Regions from separate parts of the Homo sapiens genome. Here all the other regions are linked to region 3. Evidence: fine-mapped QTL for protein levels in blood plasma. A gene starts in region 3. Each other region holds a variant in brackets. All regions are shown on one strand. Distances are from middle to middle. Region 1 overlaps CNTN1 (contactin 1). Region 2 overlaps CNTN1 (contactin 1). Region 3 holds the start of CNTN1 (contactin 1). Region 4 overlaps CNTN1 (contactin 1). Region 5 has its middle 58 kb from the start of CNTN1.

What was found. PIP is the posterior inclusion probability: the model's chance that the variant is causal. Protein levels are from antibody-based Olink assays in UK Biobank. Linkage for the fine-mapping came from a reference panel and not from the study's own genotypes, which makes the PIPs less certain.
Region 1: its variant is fine-mapped to the plasma level of the CNTN1 protein (UK Biobank, PIP above 0.99).
Region 2: its variant is fine-mapped to the plasma level of the CNTN1 protein (UK Biobank, PIP above 0.99).
Region 4: its variant is fine-mapped to the plasma level of the CNTN1 protein (UK Biobank, PIP 0.95).
Region 5: its variant is fine-mapped to the plasma level of the CNTN1 protein (UK Biobank, PIP above 0.99).

What each region holds. Positions count from the first base shown.
Region 1 is chr12:40,774,359-40,779,469 of GRCh38, reverse strand. The region is part of intron 1 of CNTN1 (contactin 1); the gene reads right to left. Among named protein-coding and RNA genes, the nearest start is that of CNTN1, 84 kb to the right of the region's middle. The variant C/AC (reference allele first, on the strand shown) is at 2,231.
Region 2 is chr12:40,780,291-40,785,401 of GRCh38, reverse strand. All of the region lies in intron 1 of CNTN1 (contactin 1), which reads right to left. Among named protein-coding and RNA genes, the nearest start is that of CNTN1, 90 kb to the right of the region's middle. The variant G/A (reference allele first, on the strand shown) is at 2,882.
Region 3 is chr12:40,689,735-40,694,845 of GRCh38, reverse strand. It overlaps CNTN1 (contactin 1), which reads right to left and starts at 2,407. Exons shown (of 24, transcript NM_001843.4): 1 at 2,254-2,407.
Region 4 is chr12:40,734,578-40,739,688 of GRCh38, reverse strand. All of the region lies in intron 1 of CNTN1 (contactin 1), which reads right to left. Among named protein-coding and RNA genes, the nearest start is that of CNTN1, 45 kb to the right of the region's middle. The variant G/A (reference allele first, on the strand shown) is at 2,454.
Region 5 is chr12:40,631,782-40,636,892 of GRCh38, reverse strand. No RefSeq gene overlaps it. Among named protein-coding and RNA genes, the nearest start is that of CNTN1, 58 kb to the left of the region's middle. The variant T/C (reference allele first, on the strand shown) is at 2,966.

The DNA.
Region 1 (5,111 bases), 85 kb before region 3:
TAACTAATTATTCCTTTAGCTGTATCTACACATCCAAATGATACCAGACAACTAGCTTTTAAATTATAAGTGTCCTTGGTAGAATTATTTTAAAAGGTAAGTGGAAAAAGGTGAGTAAGGTTAAGTTCTTAACTTGTTTTTAAGAATGAGAAGTAGCACACAAAACAAATTGCTAAATAAATTCACACAAACAGACGGGGAAATTTGAGAAATAGACTTTTTGAAGAATATTCTGAGTAAATTTGACATATTTTACTTAATGAACTCAATCTTTACCATACTATTAATTAAGAAACTGTTATTTACTAAGATTTTAACATAATTATCAAAAATCCTTAAAAAAATAAAGATTATTTATTTTGCTTTCAGAAATGTGGAAACTAAAGTCTATCCCAAAATTATACAGCTAGTATTTGAGTAAGACTACATCTACCTGACTGTTCATATTTTTCCATAACAATATGCTGCCTAATTTTTAGTCATTTTTCCATATGAAAAGGAAAGGTTTCAACTACTTGATTTAATGAATGAAGTAGGCACTCATGGAATTTCCTGACTATCAACCAAAAATAGTTTCAAACAGGCAACTAACTCAGTCACTGTATCATCAAATAACATGGCTCTTCTAAAACTACTAAATGGACTTTTCCCCACTATTATATTTTAATGACAAAACAATCAGTCGTTGAGAGCCAATTTCTTATAGGAAATATTTTCTATGTAGTTCCAATAAAAATCTGGCAAAAATGAACAAGTTGCTTTGTCTTAGGTTTTTTTTGGTTAGTTTTGTTTTGTTTTTTAAGATAAAACCTAAGGGATTGTTCGTGTTTAAGCCAGCATGCTATAATTAGGTTTATGTTCATTCATAAAAGATACTTTGAAAGGCAAAATGAGACTCAATATGCTCCAGATTAATATAATATTTTTTGTCTATTTGTAGAATTGAGCAAAATGGAAAGTCAAGTGAATTGGTATTTTAAAATGGATAAAAAATCAGGGGTTCATAAATATTTTGCATAAAGGCCAGATAAATACTTTGTTCTTTCCAGACCATATGGTCTCTGTGACAACTACCCAATTCTGCCCTTGTATCAGGAAAGCAGCCTAGACTGTATATAAATGAATGCATGTGGCTATGTTCCAATAAAACTTTATTTACAAAAACAGTACAGGGGTTGGATATAGTCCATGGCCTGTGCTTTGCTGACCTCTGAAATAGGAGAACAATAAAATATGATGATAACATGGAAATGGTGAAGCCAAGATACTTTTTTATAGTTTGGTAATAAGCCTTCACATAGTTTTGTCCAACATTCAGGTACAATTAGATTCCAGGCTACATCCTGAGTTATTAAAAAAATAGGATGACTGTTCCTCTGGTTCTTTTGAAATGACCTCAAATAAATATTCCTGAAGACATGTTTAATGATTTGTAGTGAAATGTTAAAACCAACAGTGTTTTCATTGCCCCTTTACATTAGCGTAAGGACTTCCATAATCTGGTATCTTGTCATGATGTGCTTTTGAGGCAGTAGACTGGAAACATCTACAGGTAAATTTGAAGTTGCTTATTACTTATACATATTTCCATATTTACCCTTCCCAAAGACTGACTGAAAGAGACTGTTATTAATCATGCCATAGGTGATGAATCTGAAGCTCAAAGTTGTTGAGTATATTACCAAGGTTAAGCTACTAAACAGTTGGACCGGGGTTTGAAAAGCACAGCATTACGCAGAGCTACCATGTGTGCTCATGCAGTTTATGCACCCCTTAGAACACGACATATCAGAGCATAGACAATGCAGATTTGTATATTCATTCCAGACTTTTTCCCATAGATGGCAGTAAAATATATTTTTCTTAAAAAATTTACATTGTGACTTTTTTAAAAAGAAGGATGTATATTACAGAAGGAATCTTTTTCTAATTCACTGCAATATGCCATATGTGATAGTACTCATCCTGTGCTGACCCTGAAGACTTGTTCTTTTACATTAGGCTAAACTCTGTGCCAGGAGGGTCGCCTAGGTGTTACCAAAGAGTAAGGTATTCAGGAAATGCTGTGTTCCCAGACAGCATATGTAACATTAGCCTTTCCCTTCCTTTAAGTCCTAGGAAGAGCTTATTATTATATACACACAGAAAGGTTTCATATATAAAAGAAATTTCAAGATAGAATTGATAAGACTTGGTAACTGATTGGATATAGAGAATTAAAAAAAAAAAA[C/AC]ATAGTAATTAGATACCCTGACTATCCTAGCATGGTTGACTAGATGTATGGATATGCTATTACTTGATATTGGAGATAGAGTCTGGAGAAAGACAGATGATTTTCGCTTTAAGGTTTAGTGAGAAATGTTATATTGATCAAAAAGGAAGTTGAATATATGTACCCAAAGTAAAGAGAGAGGTCAAGGCTAGAGTTAGGGTTTGGGATGCCATTTTTATAGAGGTGTGACAGTTAATGCCAAGAGAATCAGGGGACATAAGTGGGAAGAATTTAAGACTGGGAGAGGTGGGATATACAAGATAAACAAAAAACAAAATAACAGTATAAAAGTGTGGCCAGAGAAAATATATAACATGTTAAAAATAGGTCACTGAAGCCAAAAACAAAAACTGCTTTAATGAAAAGAGTTTCTTAAGTGTGTCGCCTACTTGATAGAGTTCTAGAAAAATGAGAATTGTACAGAAATCATTATAGCTGGCAATTCAAGAGTAACTGGTGAATTCTGCAAAGTCACTCTCAACCCAATAGTAAAGGGAGGTGTTAAAGATGTTGAAATAATACAGAGACTATTCCTTTCTTAAGTCTAAAACTTAGAAGTCAGAAAAGAAGGAAGTAGGGATAGAGAAAGATTTTTGTTTGTTTCCTGTTTGTTTTTAAGAATGTAAGCTCAATGGGCATTTTTAAAGTTGGGAATGTATCTGGAAAAAAGGAGCAATTCAAAATATAAAAATGAGGCATGAGTAATTGACCCCACAGTATTTCACAGAAGACCTAAGAATTACGAGTCACAAATCAATAATGGCTGGAAGTGAAATCCTCTCCTGGTTCTATCTTAAAACAAAACAAAAGAAAAAAAAGTAACTTTATTGATATATAATTTGCACACCCCAAAACTGATCTATTTTAAGTGTGCAATTCAGTGAATTTTGGTTTGTTATAAAGGCTTTACTTTTATCTTATGTGTCCAACTCTTGTTGAGAACTCTTGATCTTATCTGTCTTACAGTGTTGTAGAATTCTATACTCAGTAATGAGTCCCAACTGTACACTGGCTAGTATAACACAGAAACTATAATTTGTGGCCCATTTTAAATAAAAAAGAATAGAAATTTAAAACAAAGGAATAATAGAGAAATATCAGTGCTTTGGGCTGCAATAACATTACCATACAACATGTGGAATGAGGCAAATGCCCTAAATAGTTGCTATTGTAACTTTTACAATGGATAATTAATAAGCTACACTGTATAATTCAAAAAACTTTTGTTTTATACTATTAAAAATCTATCTATATCTGTAATTGACTCATGAAGTAACTATGCAGTGACAACATACTACTTACACTACGTTTTTGACTCACATTGATCTCTGGGGCTTTTTCTTGTTTGCTTACTTGTTTTTGGCAATGTTACCCCGCAATGTTTCTAGCATTTCAAGTCACCATTGTCTTAGTTATTTGTGTCTAACTTAGGTCTTAATTTATAAGAAAAAACTTGCTGGTGCCTACACATAACAAAATTTATTATGTAACTCTGTCTTTCTACTGTCTTTCTTTAAACTCATGGATTTATGTATTTGTACACTTTAGTTTTTGAATTGCTGATTTCCAGACTTAAAGTATGTTCATATTTTACTTGTGATTAGGAGAAACGATTTCTCAAATGAAGTAAAAAGTAAACAGAAAAAAAGATAAACCGTGGCCTAGTCCTAATATACATATGTTATTCCCTACTAGGATATCAGGCTTAGATCTGTAATCAAAGAGACATTTATTTAGTACCCAAAATATAATGGAAAAAAATAATTATAGAACTAAAGATAAACTACTTACCCAAGTTTCTAGGCCTCTAGGTAATTATATCTCATACCTAAAAATTTTTCCAAATTAATATCTACCAAAGGAAATATACATTACATTATATATAATTCATTTATATTAAAGAAACATGCATTATATTTAAAAACATTTAATTGTGGTCTTCATTTAAATATGTTAGTTTCCTTCCAAATACAGCATCTAAAGTTATTTTTAAAATCTCTCCTCCATATAGTAGATCAAGATAAATAACCACTTTCCTATTAAACATTAGAAAGAACAATAAAGAGGGGATGGTTAATGGGTACAAAAATATAGTAAGATAGAAGGAATAAGAGCGGGTGTTCAGTAGCAAAAAAGAGTGACCAAAATTAACAATAATTTATTGTACATTTTAAATTAAGCCAGTTGAATTGGAATGCTCCAAATACAAAGAAATGATAAATACTTGAGATGATGGATAACTCTATTATCCTTATTTAATCATTACATATTGTATACTTATATCAAAGTATCACATGTACCTTATAAATATGTACAACTATTATTTAACCATACTAATAAAAAATTTAAAAAGACTTAGTTGCTCTAATTTCTCTTTTAAATATTTTAGTAAACTTTGATTTTAAAAAACTAGAGAAAGGTAATAAAAAAAAAAGGCCAAAAGTAGAAGACTAAAAGCATAATTTAAATGTTCTCTTAGTGCAAGAAGATTCAATAATAGCTAAATTATATATTGAGATGAGAGTTAAGTGTGTGATTTCTGTAGTTATTCATGAAATTACACTGGAGAGGAAGCAGTAGAATACGTTATAAAGCAGACTTTATCACATTGAGTTTATTTATTTGTTAAAATATTCATGAAAGTTGACAATCACCATTAGTTTTTCTCTCCTTGGAGGAGACTCTCATCAGATCACATATATTTTCTATAATCATTCTTTAAATATGTGCTGTCTTGTGAGATTGCAAATTTCCCTCTCATGAATAATTGAACTACTGATAGATCGATGTCTTCCCTTAAACATTCAGAGATGAATCCAGTCTTTGAAATTCTCTTTAGACA
Region 2 (5,111 bases), 91 kb before region 3:
CTCCCCCTTCTCTCTCACCCCCTTCCTTGCCACGTGACGTGCCTGCTCCCACTTCGTCTTCCACTATGAGTGAAAGCTCCCTGAGGCCTCACCAGAAACTGAGGAGATGCTGGCACCATGCTTCCTGTACAGCCTACAGAACCATGGGCCAATTAAACCTCTTTTCTTTATAAATTACCCCATCTGTAGGTGTTTCTTCATAGTGATGCAAAAATGGAACAATACAGACAGCAAAAGAAAATTAATATAATACTAAATAGTTTTTTTCTGTGTCTGATACTTCCAATATCTGAAATCTTTGTAAGTCTAGATCTCCTGTCATGCTTTTGTTAGCTTTAAGTCTATTTTATTTTTTACATTTTATAATTTTCAGATGATTTACTCATTTCCTTAGAACTGTATCTAGGAAATGCCTTGAATTTAGGTTCACACTACGAAGGATTCCTTTTGCATCCACCCCATGACTATGAATCTGTAACCACACAAAAGTATCAGTTGAGGTTTGTTGGACCACGCAGGTGAATTCTGCCCCCAAACCTGAGTGAAAGCTACCTTATATTTCTGAATTCTAAGGGCAGATTTGTGCCAATCCAATCAGTGGGAAGGTGTGGGTAAGTACATTTCTTTGATGTATATTCCCAGTGATAGGTTTATTTCCCATATAGAACACGACCCTGTTGAACCTGTTCTTACAGTATTGCCCTTTGGGATCCTGCTCTCTGGGGAGCTTTTCTATCAGTCTCCAACTTGGGCAAACCAGGCTTTATCTTACATTCCAAGCTTGGCACTTGCTTGCCTCTCAGGGTCCCTGCTTTCACTTCATCTTTATCCTCTTGGAATACTTTCTTTTCTAGCCCGCTCAGCAAAACATTTAAAAACAAGTTTCTTACAGTCACATTTTAGAGTTTTTCATTTATAACCTGCCAGAAAGAGAACCCTCGATATAATCTTTAAAACTATCTCAATTTATCTTGAAAAACTGAAGTGACTCATTGCATTGCCTGTATATAAGTTCCATTACCTTAAATAAAACAATTACCAAAGCTTTTCCACTCAATTTCTTAATGCATTTAACTAAAGTACTACTATTGGGGGAACTGCTGTGTGAGAAAAGTAAGTAGCAGACCACAGGTGCAAGTTTCACATTTTAAATCCCCACTTTCTAAAAATATATTGATAGCGCCATATGAAGACTCATCTCCAGACAAATGCAGGTCTAAATTCAGAAATTATATTTTCTTTTAGAAGTTTGATAAAGATTCATATTTTCCCTAGTCCTGAACCACCCAGTCAAAATGAGTAATAGCACCCTTTGGGCTTCTGTAACAGGGGATTACACTATGCTGTAATAATTTGTTTACATAGCTGACATTTTTAACTACACTGTGGGAATCTTGAAGAGAATATCTATTTTTCTTTACTGTTAGCTGAAAATTTAGCATAAAATTGACAAATTTAATCTACAAGTGAAGATGGTCAGTATAAAGAAATTAATTGGTAAGAAATTTGTAACTATGTTACACATATAATTTCCATCTATATTTTATTTACTAATGTTAAGAAAAAGTGTCTTTCATTTTTATAATATTTACCTCAGCATTAATGAATGACATCTCTCAAAATGAATTTCTAGCATAAGAAGAGTTTCCCTTCTTTATTCATCTATTTGGTTTTTTATTACCTGATTTACGTGTTTCACACAACGAGTAAAGGAGTGTTGTGATTCTAAAATACAAGTTGTTTTAAATCATGTTTTACCTGAAACATTGTTACTGGAATGGTGATAATACCATATGAAAGAAAATGCTTAAGGTAAGAGAAGTCACATTGTCAATAACATATTGAAATTGATGTTTACTAGAGTTGTGTTCTATGTAATTTGCATTATCAAGGGAGTCTGATGATCAGCCTTTAATCTACTTTATTCACTTTGTAGAAGTCAACATTTTAAGGTCAAGCAAACTAACAAAAAACAAATTCAAAACTCACAAAATCTTTTGAGATTTTTGAGTCAGTTATAGGAGGCAAGACTGGCTTTCAGCTTGCATCTTCTCACATATATTTTTTGATCTCACACAGCTATATTTTATTCAAAACTGTTCATCTGATAATTATGTTTAAAATGCCAGCTTTATGTTCTTCTATTGTTATACTAATTCTTTCAGAGAAATCACCCACTCTAAAATCTTTAATAAATATATTTAATGGAGCTAGGACTCAATCTTTGACTCTATTCTTCACTCGACTTTCTATGTCCTATAGAATAAATGAAGCTGAGCTCCCACTGGTACTTTAAAAGCAAAATAGAGACCAAACTCATATTGTTCTCTAACAAAACAGTTTATACTCTTACTTACATTCATTTGAAAATTTCCCTTATGCTATAGAAGAAACCCCAAAACCAATTTCTCTCCTCTTTTCTTTATTCCTTTCATCTAATCTATCATAAATACTGTCATATTTATTTCCTTTATGTCTCTGGCAACAGCATGCACACCCTTCCTCTATTGCTTCTGTTAGGATTAAGTCATCATTTTATACCTTGGAAAAACTAGACAATTCGTCATTTTAAATTTTTTTTATTTGGCTACCCCATATAGATTGTGGATTCTTTCACTCAACTATGATATTATAAAATGCAGCCCATTATTTTTCAGGTAGAGAATACTGGAATCAGGGGATCAGTTATGAAGCTGGAAAAATCACTTTCTCTTATCAACAAAATAAGTCCATACACCTCCATCTACTTGGGTAACCCAATTTTCCTAAATTTTCCTCAAATATGCATCATTCCAATTGTCCCTCCAGCAAATTTCAGTGTTAGACAGACCTCATCTAGTAACTACACTAGAAATGATCCAAAGTGGATATCTACAAATCA[G/A]TAATTATGAAATTATAGTTAGTTAACTAGAAGATTAAAATGTTCTTACTTTTAGCAAAAATTTTCAATTTGTTCTATAGAAGATCAGTTGCATTTTAATCCCTAAGAAGTTTTAAGTTGTTGTTTTGACTATTATATAAGGTTTTGGCATATTCATAAATTACATTTATAAAATCAGTAAATACATTTAAGCTAAAAGGGTTTGACCTTTTTTTTATTTTTTCAAAGCCTGTTAATGGTTCATATCCAAAACACCATCTTACTCAGCATTATCAACTTCTATTAGAAATTAATACTTCAAATAAAACTATAATACTTTAATATCACTGCTGAATTTGTCCCACTTTATGATGTACAACACTATTATTGGAACTTTTAAAAAATATGTGTGCATATTGATAGATAGGTAATAGGGGATGGTTTCACTCAAATTACTATTATGTAACAAAATTAAACTTCAAAAATTAACAATTTCTCATGTGACAAGACAAAATTATATTCAGATGGTATTCTAAAAATATTTATTCTCTCAAGATGACTAATAAAAAATTAATAGTAGGAAGAGAACAGAAAGAGCCCATTAAATTTCCAAATCTCAGTTACCTTGATAATTAACATTGTATTCTAAAGGAAAAGCATTATATTCTCCTGAGAAAATATGAGATCAGATGCAGAAACCAAAATATAAACATGCGTTAAATAAATCAATAAGGATCCATTCTGACTATAATAGAGAACAATTGAGAAGACACAGTGTACACACAGAAACAATTAAATTTAGGGCCTTTTATTCTGCTATATTCACTTGATCATGTTGCTTTTGGGTTTTTATGTTCCAGTTCTTCACCTTGGTGACTCATTTCAACCCAGATATTGGTTTAAAAAAATTGATTAATGATGAAATTTAATGGGAGGCAGAAATTTAACAATGACTAACCCTCCCATTAGCCCATACAAGATAATAAAATAACAAAATTTGTACCACATTTAAGTTTGTTCCTAATACATGCAGAAGAAATATTTGTCTCCCATGGAACCCTTAGGAAAAGAGAGGAAAGTTCACCCAGGAATCTCTGACACATACTCAATAGAGGACTGGGACCAGGATCAATGGCCCAGCCTGAACCAAGATTTAAATTTTCTATTGGAATGGTCAAGACAGATGTCCAAAGAGACAGAGACCCAAGTGTGAGAGTGCAGTGCTATTGTGTCTTCTGGTGGCTTATATAAAATCTCTCTTCTTCTGACTTCACTCTTTATCTCATCTGAGGCCTTTTGTCCCACAGGTACGGTTGTGCATTCACCTGTTCCTAGCACTTTACCTATCTGTGCAAATATGGCTTTGAAGGTCTAATATAGTCATAGCTTATGTCCCAAGATGCACTATTCTCTTTGCTGGTCACTTACATTTCGAGGGTCTTATATTTGTTTCACATCTGATTTATTTCATCTATTTGGTTCCCATTATTAGCTGCTTATAGATGAGATACCTCTTGCTAACAGAGGTAACCTTAGTAGTGAGTATGTGATTGCTGTCTAGTGTAAAAGAAAGCCTGATGCATTAATGAGTCATATCACCCTTAGAAATTAAAAAAAAAAAAGATTTCCATCATTTTTGCACAAAATTCTTTAAAAATGAAAATTCTACCCTTTGGTATGAGCATCATTCCAGGAGCCACATCATACCTTCCTACTCAACAAACCCTGAACCTCTGAAAAAAAAAAAGAGGCTTGAATAGAATGCCTTAACCTCTCCTTAAAGGCCTCCTCTTTTGATTCATGGATTTTTGAGATGAACCTTGAAATGAGGATTGGTGTTTTTTTTTTTTTTTTTCTTAGATGGAATCTCACTGTGTTGCCCAGGCTGGCCTCAAACTCCTGTCCTCAAGTGATCCCTCCATGTCAGCCTCCCGAGAATAGAGAATTTGACATTTTATTCTCACACAATGGCACTCTCTATGAAAATATCAGACATGCAAATATAAGAAAGACTTTCAAATTTTATTTTATTTTGATAGGTAGCATGGGAATCAATTGAAATACTGTAGCTGCCATATTGTAGCTGAAACCATATTGTAGCTGCCCACAGTGTTGTTAACTAAATAAATTATTGATCATTGTCAGAATTTTCTTCTCGAATATTTTGAATTCCTAGGGGTCTTAAACTTCAAAACCTAATCATTCAGATAATTCCTTATTCCTTTTCCCAATTGGGATATGTATGTGACAA
Region 3 (5,111 bases):
TCAATGCTATAAAATTCCTTTTGAAGACAAGAAAACAGATTCTCAGAGTTTAATTATCTTGCTCCAAATCAGATCATCAGGAAGTTGCAGAGCAAAATTAAAAGCCAGCTCGCACTGCCTATGATGGTAACTTGGTAGATTAAATAATTTATCTTCAAAATGACTTGGCAAGTTAGAATTTTGTTCTTAAAACACAGAATTAAATTTTGTAGGGATACATGTCAGACTAGAACCGAATAAACTTGGTTTATATTGTTCCTGGTATCAACATTAACCACATTTTGTTGCCAGGACCAAAAATCCTGGGAAGCTAAAAAGTATTCTATTTGAGGGGAAACTGCTATGCAGTATAATTACACGGCAGGTTGTTGGAATATTAAAGTTTTCAGAAGACTTTCAACCAATCACTTGTGTCTTCTGAATCTTAGTTTCTTCATCTGTGAAAATGGAAAGGTTGTCATCAGGAATAAGTAATTTCAGGGAATGGCAAAGATAAATGCACATACATCAATCTATAAAAGAAAGTTCACATAGTACAAATAGATGTGATATGAAAAAGCAGTACAAATTTAAATATCAGGTCCACATGTAAAATCTGTACAAAGAAATACCTCACATCTACCCCCGCAAGGGTTCTAGCAGTTCCTTAGTCCTGGAAAGTGGGTGGATCCATTCCCAGATCCCCAAATGCTGTTAGCCATAAGTTACCACTGAAATAAATTTACTACCAAATAACCAAACCATTATGCCGAGTCTAATAAAATATCCCAGATACGGCATGTATTAATTTGATTTGCGTTACACTTCGGGCTGGTAAGGTTCATATGTACACTTAGAAACCGAAAAATGCGGCGAAATGGATGAAGATTATATTGGCACTCTAAGAATGTTTGCAAAATACTGAAATATTGAAAACATGAAATATGACATATTGAAAACATGAAATATGAAATATTGATCTTTACGTGAGTTACAAAAACATTATTTCACGCAGGGTTTCAGCAGTCTGAATGCTTCTTCTCCGGCTTTTCCCCCAATGGAGAATTGGATTCCCTTTTGCCCCGCCCACTCAGTGCTTCCAGATTGCTTGAGAAGGCCAAGGCAGCCGGCTCAGCAGCAGGGAAGCCGGGCTGGGTATGCAGGAGCTATATATAGCTCCACCTTGGAGATGTGCACACACAAGCACACGTACGAATACCCATGCCCGGTTTGGCATGAAAATAAATAAATAAATAAGGAAAGGTCGCAGCTATCCGCTTTCCCTCTTTCCCATCATCCCAATTTTTCAGGAATTTTCAAAGCAGGGTGTCATCAGTCCCAGAGGGTGATGCAGCGTCGGATCTCTCTGCAATTCTTCTGCCTACTGCTCCCAGCAATCTGACTCCTGCAGGAACCGGCACTGGGCCAACACCTACTACCCAGATGCGGTCACCTAGGGAGGCAGCCTCGCAGCCGCTCGGAGCCCATCCGGGCACAATCACTTGACTCCCTGGAAATCCCTGAAGCCAAATCCACCTTTCAGAAACTAGGTGTGAAGGTGGTTCCCGTAGACAGCGCCAGGCTAGGAGGGAAGGGGCCGTGGCTCCGCGGTCTCTCCCTCCCACCTGCCGCAGATCGTGGAGAAGGGCCGGTGCCTTCTCAACGGAGACGTAATTAATCGGAACGTGCCCTTCGAGTTGCAGGGATTCTTCCCCACCCCCATCTCCTGAAGGGAGCTAGATCTTAACAGAGGGGTCAGGGGACAAACAAGTCGCTTCCTCCCCTCTCCGCAACCGCTCCCAGGTTTTCCGGGATGCGCTAGCCAGGCGCCCAGGTGGGATGGGAAAGATGAGCAGGTGCGGGCCGGCGTCGGGAGAAAAAGACCTGCAGGCCCCGGGCTGCCGACCTCTCTGCTTCCCCACCCCTCCCCTGCCGAGGCGATATGGCATCCCTGGGGCGAGTTCCCGGCGCTGGCGGCGGCAGCCTCCGAAAGGAAAGTTGACGAGACACAGACCCCGAGCTCGGAGCCCTCTTCTAGGGCACTGCCGTCCTGCCTTGCCCGGCACCCCAGGGCTCCGGCATCCCGCACCCCTGCTTCCCCGCACCCCAGCCACCTCCGCCCCAGTCCTTCCCGCGCCGCACGGCGAGAGCTGCAGGGACCACAGGAGATTTGGGGGTGACGAGGGCTGGGCGGGGCTGGGGGAAGGGAAGCAACAGCATGGAAATGCGCATTCTTTATTTTATCTGCAAAGAAGGAAAAGTCCAGCTTCCTACCTGTTCCCTGCTCCTGCTCGCCTCGGTGCGGCACAGCTGGACCATACCCTACAGGTTTCCCACTTCCGCTGCAAACACCTGGGAGCGCATCTCCCCACCGGCGCCCCTCCTCGCCTCGGCGGAGCCCACCCTGGCTACTTGACAGCAGAAGCCCGGCCTTTTAGGGCGGTTATTGGGGCAGCAGGGAAAGTGGGGCGGGGACCACAGGGAAACCCGCTTCTCTGATTGGACAACAGGGATATCACTCTCACCCCCAGGACCAGCGCAGGCTGCAGACTTGGGTAGCTGCTAAACCCAACTGCAAAGGGTCTCTGCAGTGCCTGAAACCCAAACCTGCTGCTACCGGATCAAGGACCCTTGCTGGAGAGAAACTGGTTTGATGACTTGTCATTTGGGGCCCCAAGAGGGAGGGAGGGTCCAGGCATAACTAGACACCCAGCACTTTCCTGAAGCTTCCCTGAAGGGACCATCTGCTCCGGGAGATTTGTCAGGCGAAAATACCAAGCCAGCGCCTCATAGAGAAGAATGAGCTTCGATTAGGAAATAATAAGATACTTATGTGGGAAAAAATACACACACAGAAAGGAAAATAAAACGATGTGAGGTTTTTTTTTAAAGTTTCCATTTTTGTCCAGATGTAACATGGCAGTTTTTCTTGAGAAAAGACGGAATTGCTTAGTCTGTAATGCAGAAGACCCCCTAATATTCCCTGGTAGAAACAGTGTTTTAAACGGGAAAGCACTGCATAATAACCTCTCAAAAAAAAAAAAAGGGTAAAAGAAATTAAGGCCAAACTGCATGAGAGATTTGCTTTGGGGCAGTTCAGTTTGTGGCAAAAGTCTTAAAATAATCACCATTAGACTGATTGATAATTAAGTGATCTGTTACTTTTCTATTGATAGTAGTTTATCATTTCTTTAGTACTCAGACACTGAGAGGATGTTTATGCCCCCAAACCTAAGTGATCCCAAGCCTGCCTTTTATGTGAAGGGAACAGGGTAAAATAACTTTGTGTCCAGTTGCCATCTCTGCCATTTATTCAGGTGGAATCTGGAAATTTTGGAATTCAAGAGACTCCTTAAATGAAGGAACGTGCTAGAACTACCACGTGTAAAACTGGGAGTGTAGGGTGTCTTAGTATATAGTACCATGTGAGGAATCAAGTTGCCTTCTGCCTGCAAATAGCCACATTCTTCTTCTATCTGAATTAAGTAGCCATCTTAAGTGCTGAGCATAAGACACAACTCTCATTCTCACAGAGCTTCAAAGAGCTTATGACAGGCTTGGGACACTGGACAACTGTTAGAGAAGATGACATTGCTATTAATAAATATAGACTCTACTTAGTGGTTACGGTTGTTATTACTATCATCAGGTAAGGCTCTTCATAATGTTTTCTTCATAATACTGAAGGAATCCGATTAATGCATTTGAAGGTGGGGGCCGGGCGAGGTGGCTCATGCCTGTAATCCCAGCACTTTGGCAGGCGAGGCAGGCGGATCACAAGGTCAGGAGATCGAGACCATCCTGGCTAACACGGTGAAACCTCGTCTCTACTCAAAAAAAAAAAAAAAAAAAAAAATACAAAAAATACAAAAAATTAGCCGGGCATGGTGTTGGGCGCCTGCAGTCCCAGCTACTCAGAAAGCTGAGGCAGGAGAATGGCGTGAACCCAGGAGGCGGAGTTTGCAGTGAGCGGAGATTGCGCCACCGCACTCCAGCCTGGGCGACAGAGCGAGACTCCGCCTCAAAAAATAAAATAAAATAAAATAAAATAAAATAAAATAAAATAAAATAAAATAAAATAAAATAAAATAAAATAATAAAATAAAATAAAATAATGCATTTGAAGGTGGGAAGGGACCCTGGAGAAAATTTACAGTGAACAAATAGATATTATTTGTGTGGTGACAACCATCTTAACACTGAATGGAAATGACTAAATATGCCGTGGCAAAATTTCAGAACCCCTGTGTCATTTCTTACACAATACTCCTATTAGTCATGCACCTCTGTCCCAGGTACTCACACCAGTTATTCCATTGGATTGGCCAAATCATTCATGAATTACTGAGTACTTTTTCAATGCCATACCCTGTGTTAGGTGCTACAGAACTAAAGCAGAATAATGTATTGGACACATTAAAGATGATCTCAGGAAGCAATTACAATAGTAATATTTCTAAGGAATGTGTGTTTGCAACACGAACATCTTTTGATTCCTAAGCATAAATTATTTTGAGTCAAAATGAGCTTCAACATACTCTCCTCTAGAGGTAATCAGAGGAGAAGAAAAAGTATCAAAGAAAATACCTAAATATTGAAGACAACACAAGAATTGAAATTGGTAATGAAAAGAAAACTAAAGACATCTCTGCTATCTGCGTTCTTTCATTGCTTCACTCATTCATTCCTTCAACAAATATTACTATTATAAATGTGATGGTGAATAAAATAGGCAAGCTCTCATGGAACACATTCTTTATTCTTCAAGCAGACAATGTTACTTTGTGCATTTACTGTGATCTAATTAGCAGCTTTGTGTGTACATGCAAACACAACTCTGGAACAGTATTAAGATAATTTCTCTCTGGATCAGGCATCTCACACATTTTCAAGTAAAACAGAGCATTTTCAGGTTATTGCTTATTATCTCAAAGAGAAAAACCTGTACATATGTTCCCACAATACAAATGAATATGTCAAAGGTATCTGCTGCTGCAGAACATTTTAGATTTTCCAAATCACTTTCAGATACAATTTCCCTCTGTGTTCTAAAATAAGCAGGAGAGTCATCATTAGTCGCATTTCACCATGAGGAAATTGAGTAACCAAAGAGAAATGTGGTCCTTCAAAAA
Region 4 (5,111 bases), 45 kb before region 3:
ACCATACTTGTTTCAATTATTTCTTAAAGAAATAAAACATTACAGATATGGCTGAAGCCTCTGTTTACCTTTCCAGATCCCCTCCCAAGTGGGATTGCCATATAAAATGCAAGACTCCCTGTTAAGTTTGAATTTCAGATAAACAATGAATAAATATTTAGTATAAGTATGTCTCATATGATATACAATTTGAATGTATTTTTATTTGCTAAATCTGACATCCTTATGCCTGAGGTCTAGAAATATCCTGAAATTGTTTTTTAATCATTCTTACACATTTCAAAACGCTGCACATTATGTGATCAAGAACATTTTAGAGGATTGTTTTGCATGCCTTCAAATCTTATATAAATGGTACAATATGTTTCATTCTGCAACTAGCTTTTTAAACTAAATGCTGAGATTTTGAGATTTATCCTTATTGACTATCCAAGTTTTTTACTCATTTGAAATGCAGTTTTTCATTACTACAAACAAGATTAAAATTAATATGCTCATAGATTTCTTCTCATTTTTCTTAGGTATTTGTGAGAGAGTCTCCTACATGGGTTCTTAAGCTCCACTGCACACTAGAATCCCCTGAGGAGCTTTATAACATACTGATGCCAGAAAAATGTCTCTGGTATTTCTGATTTAACTGGTTTGTAGTGCAGCCTGGGTACTGGTATGACTGTCATGTGCACCCAAGGTTAAGAACCACTGTTCTTCTCCAGCATATATTTTTAGAAGTGAAGTTGCTAGGTTGAATCTATGAATCTTCTGTGAACCTATGAATCTTCTATGGTACTAAATATTGCCAGATTGAGCTCCAGAGTGCTTTTACTAGTTCAAAATCCCATCGACTACAGGTACAACTCTCCACTGCTATGCTTTTTAATTTTTGCAAATTTGGTAGACACAAAACATTAAATCTCTGTAGTTTTATTTTGCATTTCTTTGACTGTTAGTGCCATGGAGCCTCATTTCATGTATTTATTGACTATTGAGATTTTCTCTTCTCTGATATGCCTGTTCACAATATTTGACCCTTTATTAACGGGTCATTTATCTCTCAGTTACTGAGTTATAAAATTTTTATATCTTGTTTGTGGTTCCTTTTCAATTGTAGGTCTTGTATATTACTTTCGCTAGTTTATGGCTTGACTTCAAACTGTATTTAATGATGTCCTTTGTCAAAATGAAGCTTTACATTTTTAATCTTTCCCTTTTGCTTTCTGTAATTTGTTTAAGAAATGCTTCACAACACAAAAGTCACCCACATATTTTCATAAATTGTTTTTCTAAAGATTAAATTTTTTTTACCCTTCAAAATTCTAATGGACTTGATTTTATTAGTATGAAGTAAAAATTTCTGCCCCATCTCCCAAAATAAAACAGCAATTTTCCCAGTGCCATTTGTGGAATAGTTTTCTTTTCCCGCACTAGTTGGTGTATCCATATAATGACATCAATATAAGTTTCCGAGCTCTATGTTTTGTTCAACATTGTACACTCTGAACAAATATCATATTATTATGAAATTATGCTAAATTTGGTATGTGATACAGCAGTTCCCCTTCACTTGTTCTTCAAAATCACTTTGGGATTTATAGATTATTTATTAAGAATACACAAGCCTATTACTATCTTATTAAAAGTTTCTAAAAATACAGAATATATGCTGAATTATGCAAATAATTTCAGTCTCTATGTATTTAAATATTTGATTTTTCTCTTATGATCTCTTAATATGATGCCTCAATACAGAACCATATTAGAGTTCCTAGAGTAAGCCACACTTAGTGGTGGTATATTACTCTTTATTTGTGATGTTTCATTCTAGTTGCTAGTCTTTTATTTTGATCTTTGTTTCAAGTTCTATTGTCTATATATCTTTTTAATTTGTCAGATTTTGGTAGTAATGTAATGCTAGATTAGAAAATATAATTGTGTGATGGTTAATACTGAGTGTCAACTTGATTGGATTGAAAGATACAAAGTATTAATCCTGGGTGTGTCTGTGAGGTTGCTGCCAAAGTAGATTAACATTTGAGTCAGTGGACTGGGGAAGGCAAACCCACCCTTAATCTGGTGGGTGCAATCTACTCAGCTGCCGGCGAATATAAAGCAGGCAGAAAAAAGTGAAAGGAGAGACTGGCCTAGCCTCCCAGCCTACGTCTTTCTCCCATGCTGAATGCTTCCTGTCCTTGAACATCGGACTCCAGGTTCTTCAGTTTTGGGACTCAGACTGGCTCTCCTTGCTCCTCAGCTTGCAGACAGCCTACTGTGGGACCTTGCTATCATGTAAATTAATACTTAATAAACTCATATATATATATATATATATATACACACACACATATATACACACACACACACACACTCCCATGTATATGTGTATATACACACACACACACACACACATATATATCCTATTAGTTCTGTCCCTCTAGAGAACCCTGACTAATACAAGT[G/A]TAAATATTTATTTTCCTATCTTTTCAAATAGCTTGAAGTGCTACAAGCATCTGTTTCTTGTAGTGCTTCAAACTATTTGAAGATAAAAAATTTATATATAAAATCCACCAATCAATCTGGATTTATACTGATTTGGAAGGGGGAATATCTCCATGATAAAGTTTTTGAATTTTTTTCTTTAGCAATTGGTCTGTGTTCTCAAGGATCAGTTTCACTCATTTCTATTTTCCTAGAAAAATACTGATTTCGTGTAGGATTTAAAATTTATTTTTATAATGTTGAAAAAACTAACCTTATGCAATTCTTTTAATGTCTTCTGCCTTTGAGATATTTTCCCATTTCCAATTCTTAATGTATTTGTGCTTTCACCATCAGCGTCCTGATTAGGTTAGCCATTGTTTTTCCTTTGTTTGTTTGTTTAAGACCCAGTTATTGGGTTGATTTATTAGCTCTGTTTTGTCTGTTCTCTAAGACATTACTTTCTGCTTTAAATTATTAAATATTTTCATTTGTTTAACTTATTTTATTATGTGTGAGTTAGTTACCGAAATTATTTATTTTCATTCTTTATCAATGCAAGTGGTTGTGGCTAGGAACTTGTCTCTAGTTACTGTGACTAAATTGTATACCATAGGTCTTCATATATAATGCTTTATTATATTTACTTTCCAAGTAATCTGCTCTTTTGCTCTGAACTTCATCTTTAACCCAAAAGCCACTTGTGAGAGCCACTTATTTCACTGTGATCAGTGAAGCTAATTCTTTTCCTTTGGGAAATATGTTAGCGATTTCTTTCTAATCTATTATTTTTTTTCTCATGTGAATATTGCAAGAGCTTCTTAAACCATATCTTATACTTATATTATTAAGATCTATGCATTACTTTTGGTCTATTTGTTTGCCGTGGTCTGAGAGATAAATTAGAATATCCTATATAAATTAGAATATTGTATTACTATATTTCTGTCCATTTTACTTGTGCCTATGTATTAATGACTGCCAGATCTTCATTATAATTTATATACCTTTTACACTTCCAAGTGCTCATGTTTGATTGATTGATTCTGTATGTGTGTCTGTGTGTGTCCGAATAGTGGTCTATTTAAGAGAAACTGGCCCTGGCTCACAGAGTGCTGCCTTTTCCTTCAGCTTACCCTGGGGATTGGATGTTTGTATGAGGCCAGCATGTCTTGCCCCATCTTTCTGAGACAGCTGCAGGGTAATCACAATAGATGTTTTCTCCTCTGCTTATTCCACATGTCTCTTCCAGCAAAGATGGCAAGCAATGTGATTTCCTCAATGAGACCTACCTCCCCCACCTCTCTTTAGTAACAAATGGTGGACAGGAGAGTTTCTACAGCCAGCTCAAACATGTTGTTTCTATTGACTCAAACCGAGGACTGTAGATTTTCCTCTTTAGCATCCCCCAATGTTCTGGAAAATGTTTGCATTTGGCTGGCTGTGTCTGAGATATGTAACTGCATATGCCCTCTGTCAGTATCTTCCTGCACGCTGATTTGATATTTATTGCATTTGACAGCTCTTCATCTTAAATTGTGATTCAAGATTATAGATATCCCTATTTTTGTCAAAAACATGGTTTACATTTTTCTTGTTATTCTTGTTTACATGATTTCAGAGGAGAGAAAGAGGAAGTATCTTTGGTCTCCTTTCTCACAGTTAGGATTCCCTTATATCTTTGAAAATTACTGATGCTTTGAGCTTCACTCTAAACAAATGAAATCAGAATTTTTAAGACTCAGCCCAAGAGATGTTTAATTTGATAAACTCTATAGGTGATTTTTCCGTGGGAACGACGCCCATTGCCTTAGCCAAACAAATATAGGCTTTTAATAATATTTAAAATATTCTAGTTACGTTTCTTTCTTTGTGTGTACCAAATGTGTATTTTGAGGAATCTTCTTACATTGTTTGAAGTTTCTTGTCACTTCTAAATAAGAGTACTAAATTGACTTCCATAAAAGCTAGTCATTTTAATCTAAGAAAGTATACATAGCTTTAATTATTGAATATATGTCTACTGAGAGTTTATGGGGAGAGAAAGCCTGTTTTGGTTCTGTGGAACTCTTTGGTATTGAAATATTCTGGTCTTTAAGGAATGAACAAAATATCCTTTGAAACATTCAACAATGATGATTTAAATAGTCAACCCACAATAGTTATCCAACCCTTCTTTGCAGTATAATCTTCTTTTACACTATCATAAAATCGTATGCCTAGTAAAATGATTGTTTTACTGTTCCTCTGTTGCACATCATGCTTTTCCTGATGAATGACTTTGCTCTAACTTTACTGAAATAAATCTTCTCAACTTAGTTGATAAATTATACTTCTTGTGAGAAAACACCTCCAAAATCAATTTCTCTTCCTTCAAGGTTTCCTGACCCAGATGTTGGTTCTCCATTTGTAAATACAATGGGCAATTTCATCTGTATTTTTCTTAGCATGCTTATTATGTTATATTAATTTGCATACTTGACTTTTCCCTTAGTGATAAATTGTAATGATAATAGAATATGTGATAGTTATTTGTCATCTACGAAATTCCGGGTAACAGATTAAGTCATTATTTGCATTAATCCTTAAATGTATAAGCTAAGTAAAATCATTTTTTCTATTTTCCTAATGAGAAAATG
Region 5 (5,111 bases), 58 kb after region 3:
CTTTGTCTTACTTTAGAATATGGAAATGACAAGACAAACTTAGAAGAGAGTCACATTGTGTGACATCATGCAAACTTTATTCCTAAGGTGAGTTCTGGAGGACATCCTAGAAACCTTTGAAAAGCTCTGTTCACCCATAGCTGCCTATAGAAGTCCTATAAGGAGCTATGAACCTCTTCATAGTAATTATAATGTCAGTTCTTTCTAAATAAATTTATAAATGTATTGCTATTGCAATTAAATTCTCAGCAGGTTTCTGTAGGTGTCTATATGGAAATTGAAAAGCTAATTCTAAAATGTATACGGAAATACTAAAGAAATTTTTTTTAAATCTTGAAAAATGTAGGTGGAGGACTTACAATTCCAGATATCACAATTTACTATAAAGCTACAATAATTACAACAATATAGTGTTGTACCAGGAAGTAAATAGACCAATTAAATGGAATAGAAAATCCGGGAGTAGACACATACATATCCAACCAATCTAATATGTGACAAAAGTGCCACTGAGAGTAGGTAAATGATTTTTTTTAAGTAATTGGTGCTGTATCAGTAGATATCCATATGAAAAAACAAATTTTGATCCCCATTTTACATCTAATACAATAATTAATTCATGGACCTAATTGTGAAATATACATACAATGCTTTAGAAGGTAACATGGGTAAATACTTTTGTGAAATGAGGTATGCAAAGATTTCTAAACAGAACAAAAAGCACCAACCAAAAAAGGAACGATTAATAAATTATACTTGTTAAATTAAGAAATTCTGTTATTAAAAGGCACTATTAAGAGAGTGACAAGTGAAGCCATATGTTGGAAGAAGACATCCAGGCTGGCAGCCTGCCCTAAAGATTTGATACTTACCTTCCTAGACCTCATGGTCATGTATCAAATCTTCATTTGATCTTCTGCAAGTTTATTACCTTCACTTCTTCTTCAACACTGATTTTGCTCTGTGATTGGGTTTGGTAAGTCTAGCCATACCTATTTCTACTTCTGTCATCTGTCTTTGCATCCTAATCTTCACTTCTTACTCCTGGCTTTCTATGATTGTTTCCTATCTTCTTCAGTCAGATGATTATTAGAAGACAGTCAGACATCTTCTAATAATTTCTGTTTTATCTGTTTCTAATAGAAAGGAATCTTCAGAACTGTAAATATTCCCTCATTAATCAGCATTTTAAACATATTTATAGACTATTTTCTCTAGTAATTTGGAATGGAGAGCCACAAAATCAAGCCTAGCATTTGCCAAAAGACAAGCTAGAATATCTCTTGTACCATTTACTATCCATGTGGGTGCTGGTAGCTTTTCTATCCAAATGGAAGGAAAGCTTGATGTACTCAATGTGTGATTTCTAATCATAATCCAGTGTGATTTTGTTGAATTCAAGTCAGAGCTTAAGCCTTCTTTGCCAAGATTTCAGACCAAAATGCACTGTGCATGGTGTTATTCTGGCTTTCTATGGAAGGGAAAAAAGCATTTCCTTAGGCAACCAGATATCCTCACATCCACTTAGCCTTTGCCTCTCTTTCCTGGCATGTTGCCTGCTGAGAGTTATGGACTCTTAATGATATGTAGAGGTAAGCTAGGATCAGACAGTTTTTATTTACAAGAAACAGAATCCACCATAGACATATTTTATGTCGACATTGGTTTAAATGTAGGAAACAAAGTGCTTACAAAAATCATTAAAGGAGTGGAAAGGCAGACTTTATCCTAAGCTTCCTCCAGGAATGATTCCAAGATCAATACAATAGAACTGGCTCACCAGGGAACTTACCACAGTTAGGAAGAGAGGGAAACACAGAAGCCTTTCTGACTGTGATCCAGAAAATAAGCCAGCATCTCCACAACTCCCTCCTGACACCCATTCTGTAGTCACTCTCAATGACTAGAGAATGCATTGCTGAGTAGGGCCACCAATGCTGCTTGAATCTGCCTTTCCAAGACTATGCTCCAGAAAAGATGCTGGAAATCAATGTTCCCCAGACCAAATCCAGGCAGCAAACATGACCACACTCCTCTGTTTACGTACTGCCTGTTGCTGCTTTCACTGCACGGCAGAGTTGAGGAATTGGGACAGAGCTTGTATGTGGCCTCTTGTTCCATGAAACTGGTATATATGCTCTATAGCCCTTTACAGAAAACATATATGAACTTCCAGTCTAGAAGTCAGTGGTTGGAATGCTGTTTCAGTGAAACCAACAAGTATACAATGGTGCCTGCCAAAAATAACACCCAAAGCACAGGGAGACGTCTGCTCTCCATGCCTCAGGCAGTTCTATGTAACATACAGTACATAATTCTCATCTTCAATCTCATCTTCAAAGGAATCTAAAACATGTAGTTTTAATTTTTGCAATCTTTGCTGTATAGAAAGTCACATGAGGAGAAAGTTGGAGTGAATATGAGGGTCGTTTCATTATATCCACCAAGTTCAATTTTCTGGGTATGCAACGTTTATCCATACATTTCTCCATATACTTAAACTTCCAACAATGGCAATCTAAAATAACCATTACCATACAGATATAATGCATTTGCCATCTCTCCAAAAGGAGAGAACCAAAGTCTCATCAGTCACTCTAATGATCTTTTTGTGATACTCATCTTCTTTTAGTTCAGCTGAAATGCCACCTTCAACATTATTGTCCTTTTTCCTTTCCTCTTTCCTACACACTGAAATATGCATGTGAGGTTCAACTATCTTTGACATTTCAGGCAGGGAAAGCATTCTAGGAATGGGAGAGCAAGCAGTAGAAGAATTTGGATCTCTGATAGTGGCTCAAGCCACCATCAAGCCCTAGACTATAAGCCCAACTATTATATGAAAGAGAAATAAACCTTTACCTTAAGCTACTGGATTTTAGACTCTCTTCTACAGCAGCTTAGATTGTTCTCTTATGTATAAAGCTATAAATTAAATTAGAAATTTAACATCGATGATACATTC[T/C]ATGAGACAAGCCTAAGCAGTAAAGTGAGACTCCATCTCTACAAAAAAAAATTAAAAATTAGCTGGGTGTGGTGGTGTGTGCCTGTAATCCCAGTTCCAGCTACTCAGGAGTCTAAGGCAGGAGGATCACTTGAGCCCAGGAGTTTGAGGATGCTATGAGCTATAGTTGTACCACTGCACTCCAGCCAGGATGATAGAGCAAGACCCTGTCTTACACACACACACACACACACACACACACATACACACACACACACAAATCCTATATAAAAAAAGAAAAGGAAGGGAAGAGAAGAAAAAAGTTAACTAGTAGGTAGAGATATATACATCACATAAACAGATAGAACTATGTATAGCTATGACCTACATCACATTCTTTGCCCAACGCCTTAGCTGATTAGTTTTGTTTGTTTTGCTTGATGGTTTGTTTGTTTTGTCTGCACGTTGATCCAAATCTTTATTCTGAGATGTCTGGCTCCTTGCTGGTCTTGCCTGAATGAGCATTTGGCCAATATAATTTTCCATTATTTTTTATCCCTAGACTGGCCACTATTTGGAGACAATTTAGATGACTTGGCTCCAGATGTATTTTTTTGTCTCCATTGTGAAATAGTAGCCCGATTTTTCTTTGGTAATTCGATTAATCACTGGAACAGTTATTTTACTCCCATACTAGTTGATATTTTATTTCGTTTTGTTTTGCTTGTTTCAAGAAGAGCCTAAAATGCAACTGTTGTTATGTCCTTGATGGAAGCATTTTTCCCTTTGGAAACTTAAGGAAAATATTGCCCCAAACCTGGTCTGGAATGTATTTCACAACCTCCTTCCAAGAAAATTTGGCATACCTAATGAAATAGCCTAAGCACCATTGTATCATTGCCTCATGAACTGTAATAAGCCTGAGATCTGTTCTGGAAAGCTAGTCACCCACCCACCCTCTAACTGTCAGCTGACTGTCAGAAGCCTAATCATCTCTAATCAGAAAATCTTTTCTTAATTAACTAACATTTCTGTCTTCTATAAATGTCACTAGCAAGAGATAAATCTTTAAATTGGTCTGCTTAGGTCCCTTTTTTTGAACAATCTTGAAATAACATTTTGACAAGTCCACATAATTAAATTGTCAGAATAGGTTTAAATAATAATAATAATAATAATAATAATAATAAAACAATGACAGAAGAGTCCACAATGGCATGGATTTTGTGAAGGTGACATTGGTATGGTAGGTTAAAACATCACTTTCACTTCCACTCCTTGGTTCCTTGACTTTTGAATTATGGCTACAGAAAAAAAGTGTAAAATTTACAATATTTCTTTTGTTTTACATCACATCTCTTTTGTCTTTTTCTAAGGTTTTTGTGTCTCTGACATCAGCCTGCTTCTTACAATCATTGAAAGTTATAGTTTACTTGATAGTATATTTTTCTTTCTTAGTTTTACATAAAATAATTGCACTCTTTACAATCCAGGCCAACTTAAATTTGATGAGCTAGGAAATGACTCACTGCTTAAGATCATAGAATGCATTTTCTAAAACACCCTGTTAACCTCACAAGGTGCTATCTTCCAGAAAGTGCTGTAACTGAGTCTTCAATATGCTGTTTCATTTTCATTATTCTATAAGGAGAGTTCTGTAAGGGGAGACATAGCACAGTTGGAAAATTCCTCAGGTTTCAGCACATTGTTCCATTTATCCTGCCATAGAAAACAAGCCCCATGGTTAGAAATAACATTGTGTGGAACCCTGGTATTGTGAATGAAGCGTTCACTAAGTTCATAGATGTTGATGCTAGCAGAGAACAGACAAAAAAGGCAAATTCAAATTCAGAATGTGTGTCTGTTTCAGGGAGAAAAAATGAATCTGACAGATGTGGGTCAAAGTAGCCATCTTGCCCCCAGATGTTTTCTGGCACCTGTGGGATATGCTGGCATAGTGCAGCATTAGTCTCTGTTTTGGCAAGTGAAACATTTAACAATACTGTTAGCCAGATTAGCCTTGGTGAGGGGAAGCCTGTAAACATGTGCCACCCTGGCCACCATGGGCATTTTGTTCCCAAGCCCCTTAAGCAGGCACTAGGCTGTCTGGGGAGTGAGGCTCCTCACATCCTATACATGTGATTTCTTTTTTCATTTTTCACATTTG